Homo sapiens: one gene and its partner. The protein of the gene in region 1 binds, or shares a complex with, the protein of each later gene. Each region holds a gene or a part of one and is shown in the gene's direction. Other genes may lie near its edges.

Evidence for each region.
Region 2: STRIP2 (region 1) and STK25 share a complex: the UniProt entries of both Homo sapiens proteins name them as parts of the core of STRIPAK complex.

What each region holds. Positions count from the first base shown.
Region 1 is NC_000007.14:129,479,211-129,486,737, forward strand, and holds part of STRIP2 (striatin-interacting protein 2), read left to right. Parts: intron 1-1,290; coding exon of another isoform or gene 1,291-1,371; exon of another isoform or gene 1,372-1,574; coding exon 1,575-1,679; intron 1,680-3,631; coding exon 3,632-3,836; coding exon of another isoform or gene 3,837-3,859; exon of another isoform or gene 3,860-4,421; intron 4,422-6,368; coding exon 6,369-6,619; 3' UTR 6,620-7,527. UniProt on the Homo sapiens protein: Plays a role in the regulation of cell morphology and cytoskeletal organization. Required in the control of cell shape. Calmodulin-binding scaffolding protein which is the center of the striatin-interacting phosphatase and kinase (STRIPAK) complexes.
Region 2 is NC_000002.12:241,498,487-241,506,013, reverse strand, and holds part of STK25 (serine/threonine-protein kinase 25), read left to right. Parts: intron 1-4,305; coding exon 4,306-4,536; intron 4,537-5,217; coding exon 5,218-5,274; intron 5,275-5,732; coding exon 5,733-5,841; intron 5,842-6,599; coding exon 6,600-6,757; intron 6,758-6,839; coding exon 6,840-7,025; intron 7,026-7,229; coding exon 7,230-7,375; intron 7,376-7,527. UniProt on the Homo sapiens protein: Oxidant stress-activated serine/threonine kinase that may play a role in the response to environmental stress.

The sequences.
Region 1 (7,527 bases):
TTGCAGTGAGCCAAGATCACCCCACTGCACTCAAGTCTGGGCAACAAAAGCAAAACTCTGTCTCAAAAAAAAAAAAAAAATGTAAAAGTCTCCCTGTCTCTATTAACCACACAAGATATAACGTCTGTAGAACTTGGTCTATTTGGGGCAAGCCAGACTACCTGATGCACTACAGTAGAAAGTCCCATAGAAGTTTTCCTTAGAAGCAGACAGATGGTTCTCCTGGGACAATATTGAACATTTACTGTATGATGGAGAATATTATTTATAAATAATGTTTCTTTTTTTTTTTTTTTGAGATGGAGTTTCTCTCTTGTTGCCCAGGCTAGAGTTCAATGGCGTGGTCTTGGCTCACTGCAACCTCTGCCTCCTGGGTTCAAGTGATTCTCCTGCCTCAGCCTCCCAAGTAGCTGGGATTACAGGCTCCTGCCACCATGCCCAGCTAATTTTTTAATTTTTTTAGTAGAAATGGAGTTTCACCATGTTGGCCAAGCTGGTCTCGAACTCCTGAACTCAGGTCATCTGCCTGCCTCGGCCTCCCAAAGTGCTAGGATTACCAGTGTGAGCTACCACAACCGACCTATAAATAATATTTCTAAATAAGAAATTTCCCTGAAACTTTTTGGCTCTTGGTATTAGGTATTAGGAAAGCCTAATACCCTCAAAAACTTTGGATGTTCATTCCACATTAGATATATGCCTGTCTTGCTTCAAATTAATTTGAGGGAGGAGGAGGTAATTTTCCATTCACCAGACAGCAGCTCACTTCTACATGTCATCTACTCCTACATTCTCCTATCACATTGTAGATGTGAGGAATTTCCAAGATGTTAGTTTGGCTGTCACGTGTGCTCATTGAGTTATATAGCTTCTGACACCAGTATGTATTTGCAAGCCCCAAATTCACATAAGGACTCACATTTTTATTTCTGAAAAATCTTTCTATGAGTAGATACCTGCTTTTAATCTGACATCCATCTGTTGTCTCTGGTTAGGTGTTCACAAACTATCAAGAAATATATAAGAAAAATATCTGATTAGAAGAAACCATCTGCCATTTTTCCTTCCATGCTGAAGAATTAAGCATCTAACTGTAATATGGTTTGATAAAGGAGGGTGAAGGTTGATAAGATAAAAAAAAATTCAACCATAGTTGATATCAGATCCATCCAACATAGTTTAAAATCTACCAGAATTAGACCTAATCCTAACAATTACAAACATAGTTTATATAAGCGCAAAGTACCTGTATATGGGGGTAAAATTCTCTCATCTCTTTTCTGATCCTAGAGCAATAAGCTACACAAGAAAACTTGCCTGAATCAGGTTCCTGTGCTCATGTATCATCTTTCTAACCAACACATGCTGTAGGTAGAGTCTTCCAGGATTGGCAGCTGAGGGGGTTTTTAAACCATGGGCTTTGGAGACTTCAGTGTGTTAAGAAACAGGAAGGTGAGGAGGTATTATTTCATACAGGAAGGCCTCACCTAAACTGACCAACATTGACTTCCAGGCTTCTGTGGGAATTAAAGCCTTGTAGGTATTAAGATAATGATGGATGTTCCCTACTATAGGAAGCTGGAGACAACAGCCAGTTCTGCTGGAGGAACCTCTTTTCCTGCATCAACCTCCTGAGGCTGCTCAATAAACTGACCAAATGGAAACATTCCCGGACCATGGTGAGTGTGGTTTTTTACATCATGGAGTTGTCCATCTGACTGAATTTTTAAAAGATCACTAGTAAATATTTGTGTGCTACCTGGTTTGTGATCTCCGTATATAGACACTGAATGCTACATAAGATTTAGCACCTCATAATTCTGGGCACTTATTCTATATTAGATGATTACTTATCAGTCCATTTCTTTTCAGGGGGCTGAATCTCAAACCCTCCCTCAGGGCAACTCTAGCAGGGAAGCTAGCAATGTTGTTTGGATTACATACATTCCCAAATGATGCAAGTGCAAGGTTTATCATTGCAACATTGTTTATAATAATGAAAGCTTGTCTGGGCTCCGTAGCTCATGCCTGTAATCCCAGCACTTTGGGAAGCCGAGGCGGGCAGATAACAAGGTCAGGAGTTCGAGACCAGCCTGACCAACATGGTGAAACTCCATCTCTACTAAAAATACAAAAATTAGCTGGGAAAGGTGGCAGGCACCTATAGTCCCAGCTACTCGGGAGGCTGAGGCAGGAGAATCATTTGAACCTGGGAGGCAGAGGTTTCAGTGAGCCGAGATCATGCCACTGCACTCCAGCGTGGGCAACGGAGTGAGACTCCGTCTCAAAATAATAATAATAATAATAATAATGAAAGCCTGGAAACAAGCTAAATGCTCATTAAGCAGGACCAACTGGTTAAATAAATGATGGTATGTCCTTATAATAGAATATTATGCAATCATTAAAAAGAATGAGCAGCCGGGCTCAGTGGTGCATGCCTGTAATCCCAGCACTTTGGGAGGCTGAGGCAGAAGGATTGCCTGAGCCCAGGAGTTTGAGACCAGCCTGGGCAACATGATAAGACCCCATCTCTATTAAAAAAAGTAAAAGAATGAGGCAGTTCTGTACTGATATGGAATGGTTTTCAAGATATATTCAATAAAAAAAACCAGGTATAGAACAGTGTGGCAGGATATGTAGTTGGCTACCATTTGTGTTAAAAAACAAAAGTAGGCTGGGTGTGGTGGCCCACACCTGTAATTCCAGCACTTCGGAAGGCCAAGGTGGGAGGATCACTTGAGGTCAGGAGTTTGAGACCAGCCTGACCAACATGATGAAACCCCATCTCTACTAAAAATTAGCTGGGTGTGGTGGCGGGCGCCTCTACTCAGGGGAGGCTGAGGCAGGAGAATCACTTGAACCCAGGAGGTTGAGGTTGCAGTGAATCGAGACTGCACCACTGCACTCCAGCCTGGGCGACAGAGTAAGACTCCATCTTAAAAACAAAACAAAACAAAAAAATAAAAGTAATATATGCATACATAGAATTATCTCCAGAAAATAAACAAAAATACTGTGACAGTGGAAATGATATGTGTGGCTGACAAAATTTTCTTTTCACTTTATACCATATGCTTTGAATATTGAAAACTTTGAACAATAAAATATGAATGGAATAGTTCTCTCTCTCTCTCTCTCTCTCTATATATATATATATATATATATTTTTTTTTTTTTTTTTTGAGACGGAGTCTTGCTCTGTCACTCAGGCTGTAGTGCAGTGGCATGATCTCAGCTCACTGCAACCTCCGCCTCCTGGGTTCAAGCAATTCATGTGCCTCAGCCTCCTTAGTAGCTGGGATTACAGGCCCATGCCACCACGCCTGGCTAATTTTTGTATTTTTAGTAGAGATGGGGTTTCATCATGTTGGCCAGGGTGGTCTCAAACTCCTGACCTTACGTGATCCACTGGCTTCGGCCTCCCAAAGTGCTGGGATTACAGACATGAGCCACCTTGCCCAGCCCCCCTCTATATTCTTGAAGATTAAATCTAAGTAGAGCCTGGACCATAGATTCCTGAAAGCTCCCCAGGAATTTCTGAGGCTAGCTAGGTTTGGTTTAATTTGTCTGTAAACTGGAAATTCCAAGAAACGTTAGATCTTTACCCCACCCCTCTTTCAATGAACAGATGCTGGTAGTGTTTAAATCGGCACCAATCTTAAAGCGGGCCCTCAAGGTCAAACAGGCCATGCTGCAACTTTATGTCCTAAAGCTACTAAAGTTACAGACCAAGTACCTGGGGCGCCAATGGAGGAAAAGCAACATGAAAACCATGTCAGCCATTTACCAGAAAGTGCGTCACCGCATGAACGATGACTGGGCTTACGGGAATGGTGAGTCTTCCCAAAGCTCTTGACTTCCTGGAGTTTCCTGGGGTTTAGACAAAACTAAATAAATATTTATCACTCCTCTTTTGGCATGAATTGTTACATATTTTAGATGAAAAAATATGTGATTATAGGTCAGGCGCTGATACACCAAACTTTAAGGTTATGCCTCAAATTCTAGTATGTACCCTTGTCCTATGTAAACTATGAAAATCCGTTTTATAAAACAAGTAAATTGAGAGATAATTAATTGCCTTTCCAAAACATTCTTTTAAATGACAGCTTTCTCCAAAAGATTTAAATTAAAACAACTTTTTATTATTACAAAGCAGTTAGAAAAAAAGATAGAAAATACAAGTAAACAAACATTTTACTATATTATATTTATGCCATATTTGTACTATGCAGAAATTGCCACCATTAACATCTTATTGTATATTCCTCCAGATCTTTTTCTATGCATATACATGCATATTTTATCAAAATGAAAGCAAGTTATGTATGCTATTTTGTAATTTTCTCTTTTAACATTATCTCTACCTTTTCATGTCAGTACATTTTCATTTCATCTAATAAAGTTCATATTCACAATTTTCGAGTTGTCCCAAAATGTTCTTCATAGCTATTTTTCCAAGTCAGAATCCAATCCAGGACCACAGGTTGCATCCAGTTGTTATATATATGTTAATTATTTTTGTTTTCTGTTTTTTGTTTGTTTGTTTTTTTGAGAGGGTCGCTCTGTCACCCAGGCTGGAAAGCAGTGACATGATAATGGCTCACTGCAGCCTCGACTTCCTGGGCTCAAGTGATCCTCCCAGCTGCCAAGTAGCTGGGACTACAGATGCATACCACCACTACACCCGGCTAATTTTTCAAATTTTTTTGTAGAGATGGAGTCTCTCCCTGTGTTGCCCAGGCTGGTCTTGAACTCCTGGGCTCAAGGGATCCTCCTGCCCTGGCCTCCCAAAGTGCTGGGATTACAGGTGTAAGCCACCGTGCTTGGCCTCTAAGCAGTCTCCCCACCTCCACCATTAATGCTAACTAATTGAAGAACTAGGCCAGTTGTCCTGCAAAATACTCACATTCTGGATTTGTCTGTTTTCTTCTTTGTGGTGTTATCTACTTTATTCGTCTATCTATGGTATTACCTGTAAACTTGAAGTTAAATCTAAAGGTTTGATGAATTCAATTTAAACCTTTTTGGCTGCAGTATGTCCTAGGTAATCTTGGGAACTGTACATTGCCTCACATCAGAAGGCAAGATATTTGGTTAAACTACCAGAACTTGTAAGATTGATCAGAGTTTGGAAAAATTTATTTTGGAGAGCTTTTTTATTGTTTTGTATTTGACCATTATTTCCATAATTGTATTTGAGAATTTTTGGTAATGACTTGTCTTTGCTGTGTTTGTAACCTGCTTGAATTTTAAAGGATGATGCAGTAAAGAGTTCAGATAACTCTACTTACTTACCTGGCAGGGAAAATACCATGATCATGAAGATGGTTTTCCCAGGACAAGTCTTATCCATTTTACTCCAGATATGCTGACCCCTGCTATTCCCCTAAATGTGGGAAACTCAACTGCATAATTTGTGGTGCTGAGGGACTGTCTTTTCACTAAAAAAGGGTTTAGAGAACTAAAGGAAACATATGATAGGCACATAACAAGCCAGGATGCAACTTCTGCTATAAGACATAAAGCACAATTATCTATTAAATTCTTGTAAATTTTTAAAACACAAAAATGTTTTATCCTGCAAATGGCACATCTGTTGTTGCTGCCATTATGAGCCCAAACTCACACTACACTTCCTTATGATAAACCCTTGCATGTAGAACATGAGAGATCTGGGAGATTTGTATCTTCAGCCCTGAAATAAGTGTCTAAGTGAATAGAAGCGAAACAGATTATCTGTTTTCTGTTTTTACCTTCATTGAAGCCGTCACCTCATCATCTTAAAATAAGCTGACATATAGATTTATCATGTGCTGGAGGAGATTCCAGGGAATCAGGAAAATCTTCGGTAATTGGTCCATTCTGATTCTCCATGTTATACCCCTCTTGCCCCTTCCTATTCCTTGAAAGCTGGCTATTCCATTCAGATGGGACACTCATCCCCTAAGGAAAGCTGCATAAAAGGAATTTAATTACCCTTTTGGGAAACATAATACATATAACTAGTAATACATAAAGCTAATAAGAAAGTGAAATAATAAAAAGGAAATACAATAGAAGAAGTCCACCTCCCTCTGGGCCCTCATTTCCTTTCTCATAGGTAACCACTATTACCAGTTTCTAGACTACCCTTCCAAAGATAATTTCTGCATATACAAGCTTATGCATGTGGGCATATGTGTATTTTTTAAACCTAAGTGTCAGCATGCTGTATACTAACTTCATACATTGCTCTTTACAAAAAAAAAAAAAAAAAGAATTTCTGAGCAGTTCCATTTTTGGAATCCCATAGACCATGCTCTGTGATAAGAGGAGCAGTGTCTTGCATTGTATGTCTTCTTCTTCCTCTCTTTCCAACACAGACATCGATGCCAGACCATGGGACTTCCAAGCAGAAGAATGTACCTTGAGGGCCAACATTGAGGCTTTTAACAGCCGTCGCTATGACAGACCCCAGGACTCTGAGTTTTCACCTGTGGATAACTGCTTGCAGAGCGTACTGGGGCAGAGGTTGGATCTGCCTGAAGATTTCCACTATTCATATGAGCTCTGGCTCGAGAGAGAGGTGTTTTCACAGCCCATCTGTTGGGAGGAGCTGCTCCAGAATCACTGACTAAGTTCTTGTCAACAAGCATCAATAGATAGAGGTCAGCTCCAATAAACTGTGCTCTGCCTACCCTGTCCATACAGGCGCTGTTACCAGTTCAGGGCTCTTCTGGGGGCTCTTGGGCCTAAAGATGGTGCAAGGGTGGGATCCTGAATCACAATAAAATGATCAACTTGCCCTGGGGTCAGTTGGGTGCCCAGTTGGCCTTGGAAATCTTTTGGTGGATCAATTCTAGACAAGCTCTTTGGTAGGACCTTTTCCTGCTTTAGTCTTGGCTACAACCAGGCTAGACTTTGCTGGCTCTAAAAGAGGAAATTTGTTATGGCATTTGACCCATGGCATTCATCACAGATAGTGGGAGGTACAAGTCATAAAATAGGGAGAAAGTTTTCTTCTTGCTCACACTGGATTCCTAGGACTTATCAGAGATTTGGAAAAACCAACTTTGAAATTAAGTTTGCATTTTAAATTTCAAATTTGGAAGCCTCTTTCTGAAATCATTAGCTCTAAGATTATTTTAGAGCACCTGCACCTTCTTTGTGAAGGATGATGATTTACTATTCCCTCAATACTGCATGTTATCGAAAAGTGTGTTGTGTAAAGTGTTTTTTTCCTCATTCTGTAAGAGATCTATATTCAATGTGAAAATTATTTCCTTGTGTACTCTGTATAGGGCATGGAATGCTCTGCCATTTTTAAAGAGCCACAACCAATATGAAATAATTAGGTCCTCTCTAAGGATGTTTCATGTTTTTCTTAAATGACTCCAGTCTTCAAATGGCTGAGCATACTGCAGAAAATTATCCTTTTCATCTAATTCATTTTTTAAATGACAAGTTAACTACAGGAGGCTTTATTTATTCAGATGGTATGTCCACTTGTGGTCGTGATCAATATATTTTTCTAATTGAAAA
Region 2 (7,527 bases), on another chromosome or scaffold:
TTGTGGGGCAACACTGACAGCAGACACATTGGCAAGTGGAGGCCCCAGACCTGGCAGCCCCAGGGCTAATGTGGAGAACAGGTGTCCACCGCTCGAGTCAGCTGAGTGGCCCGAGTGATCATCCAGGCCACAGCTGCTGCTACATCCAAAAGAGGATTCGCAGCCTCCAGGCCAGGGGCCCACTTACCCTTTCTTCTCCAGGTGGGGGTGGGGATGGCTTGCCTTGGCTTGGCCTGCGATGTCATTGTAGGGCCAGGATCACAGCCAAGAGGGTTCCTGTCACACAGTTTCTGCTTGGGCTGATGAGCCCTGGCTCTGGCTTAGGGGTCCGCTGTGCTCCCCTGCTGTGAAGCAGTAGAGGTCTGAGTGCCCACCCAGGGGTTTCCCTACCGGGGCTGCTGTGATGGAGCAGATTCAGCTCCAGGCCCTGTGTGGAGAGCAGCATGGCCTCAGCAGGGAGCAGGGAGTAGAGCAGGGCGGGAGGACGCGTCATCCAGAGAGGCCTGAAGAGTCGGAGGGGTGGTGGTGCTGGGTAATGCTGCCAGGTCATGGCCCTGCTTTCTCCAGGCCCTCTCTCAGGCCACCTTAGACAGGAGTAGATGGGAGGACACAAGCTCAGGGCACCAACAGACCTCTGGAATCCCCAGGAGGACTCCCTTGGGGTCTTTCCGGGTGCTTGGGCAGGGTTGGGTTGAGGCTGAGGCCAGGCCTACAGGCTAACGGCTCGGTGGAGCAGCGTCCCAGGGCCCCGAGTAAGCGTTGATGGGCTGAGCAAACAGGGAGGATTTGACAAGGTGGCGTTGGGCCTGCTGGAGGAGGAGCAGGCAGAAGAGGGGCTGCTTCTGCAGATCACCTGAGGTCAGGAGTTCGAGACTAGCCTGGCCAACATGGTGAAACCCTGTCTCTACAAAAATTCAAAAAAAAAAAAAATTAACGGGGCATGATGGCGGGTGCCTGTAAGTCCGGCTACTCGGGAGGCTGAGGTGGAAGAATCGCTTGAACCTGGGAGGCGGAGGTTGCAGTGAGCCGAGATCACGCCACTGCACTCCAGCCTGGGCAACAGAGTGAGACTCTATCTCAAAAAAAAAAAGAAAAAGAAGAGGGGCTGCTTCTTAACCTTGTCCTGCACCTGGCATCCAGGACTGGGCTAGGAACGGGTGGTCCTCCACCAGAAATGGAGCAAACAGGGAGGAGGAAACGGAGATGATGCTCTCTATGGCAGGAGGGTGATATTTTAACACTGACTGCTTACCTATGACAGCCAGTGGGCTGATGAGCTTATGCTTTGACATGCACTTGTGGGCCCAGCTACTCAGGAGGCTGAGGAGACCAGCCTGGGCACACAGCGAGACCCCCCATCTCAAAAAAAGATTGCATGTTCTGGGTTGACTTTCCTTTCAGATAGGGGCTGGTTCTCACCTCATCTGTGCCACCCACCCTCAACCCGGAGACAGCTGAGCACCTGTGACTTGTCAGCTTTGAATTTTTCCTGGCTTCTCTTTAGAACACATGGTCAGCAGCAGTGATGGGGCTGGGGGCAGACACAGCTCACCTTGACCGGAATGACCCCAGGCAGTACTCAGCTCTCTCTATCCTGCCGAGTTTCTTGACCTTGGCTTTGGGGACTCCTGGTAGCAGGTGGGCTCAAGGCACCCCCTGCTGTTTCCTCCATGGGTACTGGCTTTAGGACTGGGCTGCTGTACTGATGAGAGAATGAGAAAGGTCACTTTTGACTCGACCAGCTGTCTCAACTGGCCAGACCTTTGGGCTAAGCAAGGGTCTGTGTGTACACTGCAGCTGGCCTGCTCTAGCTGCTGCATGGAGGCCACCTGCACACCCCCGGGCCTTGACAAGCCAGCCTTGCAGGGAAAGGTTAGGTGGCCTCTGGCCCTCCCCTAACTGCCTTTCCTTCCCCAGAGTTCCAGTCACCTCGAGGTCTGGCACTCAAAAAGGGATGTGCAGCGGCATGTTTCAAGGTGGGGGCCTGTGTGCCGCCCCTTCCACCCTCCTGGTTAGGAACCCTGGGAGGTCAGCTAATTGGCAGTTTCACACGGAAGTGTCGCCTCAGGCTGGTGCGATGTCCAGTTGGCTTCAGCCAGCTCCTCCGCTGGGCTTAGGCCTGGGGTGGACCCAGCACACAGGTGTCCAGGGGGTGAGTGTGAGGGCTGTGTGTGGTGTACCCCATCCTTCTTGGTGGGCACGGTCTCCGCAGGCCCAGGAACGTGCAGGGCACCCCCACCCAAGGACCTGTCCTGTCTTCAGTGTTTTTTTTTGTGGCATAATTAGTCGTTTTGCCTTTTTTTTTTTTTTTTTTTTTGAGACGGAGTCTTGCTCTGTCGCCCAGGCTGGAGTGCAGTGGCACGATCTCCGCCTCCTGGGTTCATGATATTATCCTGCCTCAGCCTCCCGAGTAGCTGGGACTGCAGGCGCCCACCACCACACCCGGCTAATTTTTTGTATTTTTTAGTAGAGACGGGGTTTCACCATGTTAGCCAGGGTGGTCTTGATCTCCTGACCTCGTGATCTGCCCGCCTCGGCCTCCCAAAGTGTTGGGATTACAGGCGTGAACCACCGCGCCCAGGCTGTTTTGCCTTTTTATGCTCTGCCACACTAAATTGGCATCAAGACCCTTGATGTTGTTAGGGGAGGGGCCGTGCGTGGTGGCTCACGCCTGTAATCCCAGCACTTTGGGAGGCTGAGATGGGCAGATCACCTGAAGTCAGGAGTTCGAGACCAGCCTGGCCAACATGGTGAAACCTTATCTCTACTAAAAATACAAAAAATTAACTGGGAGTGGTGGTGCATGCCTGTAATTCCAGCTACTTGGGAGGCTGAGGCAGAAGAATCGCTTGAACCCAGGAGGCAGAGGTTGCAGTGAGCCAAGATTGCACCACTACACTCCAGCCTGGGTGACAGAGTGAGAAGCCATCTCAAAAACATTTAAAAAAGGGTCGAGGCTTGAGGACACACCTCTGCTGGCTTCCCCTGGACTCTGGGCCTGGGCCACAGACCCCAGGCACCTTCCACACCACTGGCTCAGAAACTTTTAGGCATTGCTTCTTTAAATCTGAGGACTGTGTGAGGCAGCTTTCTGCATCAAGAAAGCATCAAGTTTCTAACTCCGCGCTGGTGTAGCTGTCAGGAGGACTTATGGAGGGGTGAGGGAAGCCCTTTCTAAATACGTGACTTTCAGGAGTGGAGGAGAACTTGGTTAACACATACTGAGGTTTTTTGTTTTTGATGAGGTTTTTTTTTTTAAATTTTTTATTTTTTTGAGACCTAGTTTCGCTCTTGTTGCCCAGGCTGGAGTGCGATGGTGCGATCTCGGCTCACCGCAACCTCCGCTTCCCTGATTCAAGTGATTCTTCTGTCTTGGACTCTCAAGTAGCTCGGATCACAGGCATACGCAACCTCGCCCGGCTAATTTTTTTTGTATTCAGTAGAGATGGGGTTTTACCATGTTAGTCAGGCTGGTTGCGAACTCCTGACTTCAGGTGATCAACCCGCCTTGGCCTCCCAGAGTGCTGGGATTTCAGGTGTGCACCACCAAGCCTGGCCTGATGAGTTTATTTTTTAGTAATTTCAGATTTATAACAAATTAAGTAAGAGCTCCCAAATCCCCCCTCACCCCCAGGGGCCATTCACCTATTAACATCTGTCACGGGGCTGGCATGTTGTTCGGGTTAGATGAGGCAACCTTCATGCCGTGTCATCACCTAAAGCTCCTGTTTCCAGCAGGGTTCATCGAGTTGGCCTGGCCTCTTTATACTTTCTGGGGACTTTTTCCCTTGCATGGAAAGTTCAGTTTAGGTTTTTTTGTTGTTGTTATTTGTTTGTTTGTTTGTTTTTTTAATGGAGTTTGATTCTTGTTGCCCAGGTTGGAGTGCAATGGTGCGGTCTTGGCTCACTGCAACCTCCGCCTCCCGGGTTCAAGCAATTCTCCTGCCTCAGCCTCCTGAGTAGCTGGGATTACAGGCATGAGCCGCCACGCCCAGATAATTTTTTTGTATTAGAGATGGGGTTTCACCATGCTGGCCAGGCTGGTCTCGAACTCCTGACCTCAAGTGATCCACCTGCCTCGGCCTCCCAAAGTGCTAGAATTACAGGCGTGAGCCACCACGCCCGGCCAAGTTTAGTTTTTGAACAAAAAGGGAGAAAGGAAGAAACCAGAGAAGAATTGAGGTGCGCTCCCTTGGACTCCCCCTTCCCTACAGGTCCCTTCCTCCCCAGCAGGGCAGCCTCTGCCTGTCCCCCGCCTCTTGTGACCGGCGCTGTCTGCCCTCTGTCCCCGCCCTGGCCCCACAGCACTCTCGAGTGGACCCTGAGGAGCTCTTCACCAAGCTCGACCGCATTGGCAAGGGCTCGTTTGGGGAGGTCTACAAGGGCATCGATAACCACACAAAGGAGGTGGTGGCCATCAAGATCATCGACCTGGAGGAGGCCGAGGATGAGATCGAGGACATCCAGCAGGAGATCACTGTCCTCAGTCAGTGCGACAGCCCCTACATCACCCGCTACTTTGGCTCCTACCTAAAGGTGCCTGTTGTGGGGAGGCGGGGACCCTGCTGGTGCTGTGCCCGGCTCTCTTCCATGTCAGAGGGACTGAGTGACATGCCAGAGGGTGCAAGGCGGTCTTGACGGTTCAGTGCATGCCCTCCGGGAAACTGCCCTGGGCAGGCAGGGTGTGAGCCCTCGTCCACGAGGGTCAGTTGGCTCTAAATGGCCATTGGGACCCACTTGCCTGCCTGTGGTAATGCAGTGAGGGCGCTGCTAGGAGCACTCTGGGGGGCCCCTACTGGCAGTGGTGAGTGGGCCTGTGAGGAGCAGGTGGCTGGTGGTGCCAGTGTCTGGGGTGTAGGGAACGCTGTGGCCATCCTGCCCAGGAGGGTGATGGGTGTGTCGGGTCACATGCTTGCCAGCCATGCCCTCTTCCCAGCCCTGTAGGACTGGATCAGCAGCCTGGTTTTTGATGGGGTCTTGGTGAAGTGGAGTCAGCCACTGCTGTGTGTACTCAACCTGTCCTCTGAGCATCTGTAGCAGTAGTGTGGCAGGAGGGGAAGATGGGCAAGGCCGAGAGAGCCCTTTCCTGTTCAGGGTTCTTGGCAGGGATGGGACCGGTGGGGCCTGGGCCCTGGCTGACTCCGGCCTGTGACTCCCACCCTGGAGCATGCCCTTCCTCTTGCTGCCAAATGCTGATGGGTTTGTCTCCGGTCCCAGAGCACCAAGCTATGGATCATCATGGAGTACCTGGGCGGCGGCTCAGCACTGGACTTGGTGAGGCATAGGCCATGGCAGTGGGGGGTCATGCAGTGTCCGAGTCCCCTGCCCCTCAGACTCATGGGCTCCAGGGGCCACCTCTCGTTTGGTGTCATGGCACGTTAGGTGTTAATTAGGAATCGTCTAAAGCAAAAATGAACTGCCATCTGCACGTCTGCCCAGTTGGTGCTGAAAGGGGTCCTGGCCTGTGGGAGTGGGCGGGGGCAGGCCTGCTGGGAGATGGCTGGGAGCCTATTTTTCTGTTACATGACAGTAAGGTGAGGCTGGTTTATATGCTTTAGAAAGAGCCTCCACCACCCCACTCCCATCTGAAACTTAGTTCTGTTTGGGAAGTAAAGGAACACGAAGCCCCCAGCTATCTGCAGGGACAGCCCTTCCCTGTGAGAGAGGCAGAGAACTCAGGCATTGGGCCTGGGACAGGAGCTGAGGCCCTGCTGTCGCACCTTCCTCTCCAGCTTAAACCAGGTCCCCTGGAGGAGACATACATTGCCACGATCCTGCGGGAGATTCTGAAGGGCCTGGATTATCTGCACTCCGAACGCAAGATCCACCGAGACATCAAAGGTCCTGCTGGGGGTGGATGTGGCTCTTGTAACGTCCTGAGCCCCACTGACCTTAGAGAGGCCGGGGCCTGTGAGGGGCAAGTGGCTAGTGGTGCCCAGGGTCTGGAGTATAGAGAACCTTGTGGCCACCCTGAAACTGAGCAGTCCTGTCTCGCTCCCTTTCCAGAAGATACTACTTGTAACGGTTTCCTTGTACGCTGAGGAAACCAGCTGTGGACTGAGTGTAGGAAAGGGCCACACTTGGCTGGAGTTGTTGGTTCCCTGTGGTGCACGGCACAGCAGCAGGTGTAGAATTGAGTAGCCCCAGCGTGTGGTCTGGCCCTGCTGAGAGCAGACGGGAGGCTGGGCCAGCCCATGGGGAGGGACTTGCCACTGGCAACGAGCCATCTCTGTCATGTAGGGGACGATTCTGGTGGAGCAGGGGGCTTCCTGGCAGGCCCGTGTTGGCTACACCCTTGGTCAGGGTCACCTCTGCGGTAGCCCCCAGTGGGCGAAGTCGCTTGTCGTTGGGATTTGTCGTAAAAGCCAAATGCAGGAAGAGCCCTGGAGCTCGGAGTGGAGCCGTTGGGCTCCTGCTGGCAGTGCCCCTGTGGCCCTAGGTGGCCCTGGGTTTGAGAGTGGCAAGGAGGGCTGAGGTCCTGAGGACAGCCCTGCTGTGCCCTAGGAGGCCAGGTGGATGGTACCCTGGCCCTTCTCAGGGGGCCCGGGGTGGAGCCACGTGGAGCCTGGGATGACGCCTGCCTGTCCTGTGTCAAGCAGCTGCCAACGTGCTACTCTCGGAGCAGGGTGACGTGAAGCTGGCGGACTTTGGGGTAGCAGGGCAGCTCACAGACACGCAGATTAAGAGGAACACATTCGTGGGCACCCCCTTCTGGATGGCACCTGAGGTCATCAAGCAGTCGGCCTACGACTTCAAGGTGGGTGCAGCGGGCGGGCAGGTGCGGGCACCATGCCTGGCTCGGGTGCTCAGGGCAGCAACAGTCCTTGTGTTCTGTCCAGGCTGACATCTGGTCCCTGGGGATCACAGCCATCGAGCTGGCCAAGGGGGAGCCTCCAAACTCTGACCTCCACCCCATGCGCGTCCTGTTCCTGATTCCCAAGAACAGCCCACCCACACTGGAGGGCCAGCACAGCAAGCCCTTCAAGGAGTTCGTGGAGGCCTGCCTCAACAAAGACCCCCGATTCGTAAGGCCCGCCTCTGGCCCGGTCCCTTCTAGACAGGACGTGGAGGGAGGGCGTTCGCTTGGGGTGGGCGGCACAGCCCGGAGGCCCAGGCCCACCAGCCTTGTAGCTGTGAGGGCCCGCCCCGGTCCAGGCTGCCTCACGTTTGCTTCCCTTAGGCAGAGCTTGGCTGGGCCCAGTGACTAGTGTTCCCCTGACCCCCTGCAGCGGCCCACGGCCAAGGAGCTCCTGAAGCACAAGTTCATCACACGCTACACCAAGAAGACCTCCTTCCTCACGGAGCTCATCGACCGCTATAAGCGCTGGAAGTCAGAGGGGCATGGCGAGGAGTCCAGCTCTGAGGACTCTGACATGTAGGGACCTGGTTTATCCTCATGGTGACCCTAGGTGCTGTGACGTGGGTGGTCCCCACTCCAGAAGCAGGGGCGTGGGCCCTGGGGGTGAGGGTGACCAGATATAGTGTTGGGCAGGGACCCCCTCAAGGCTGCAGGACAGGGCCTGCTGA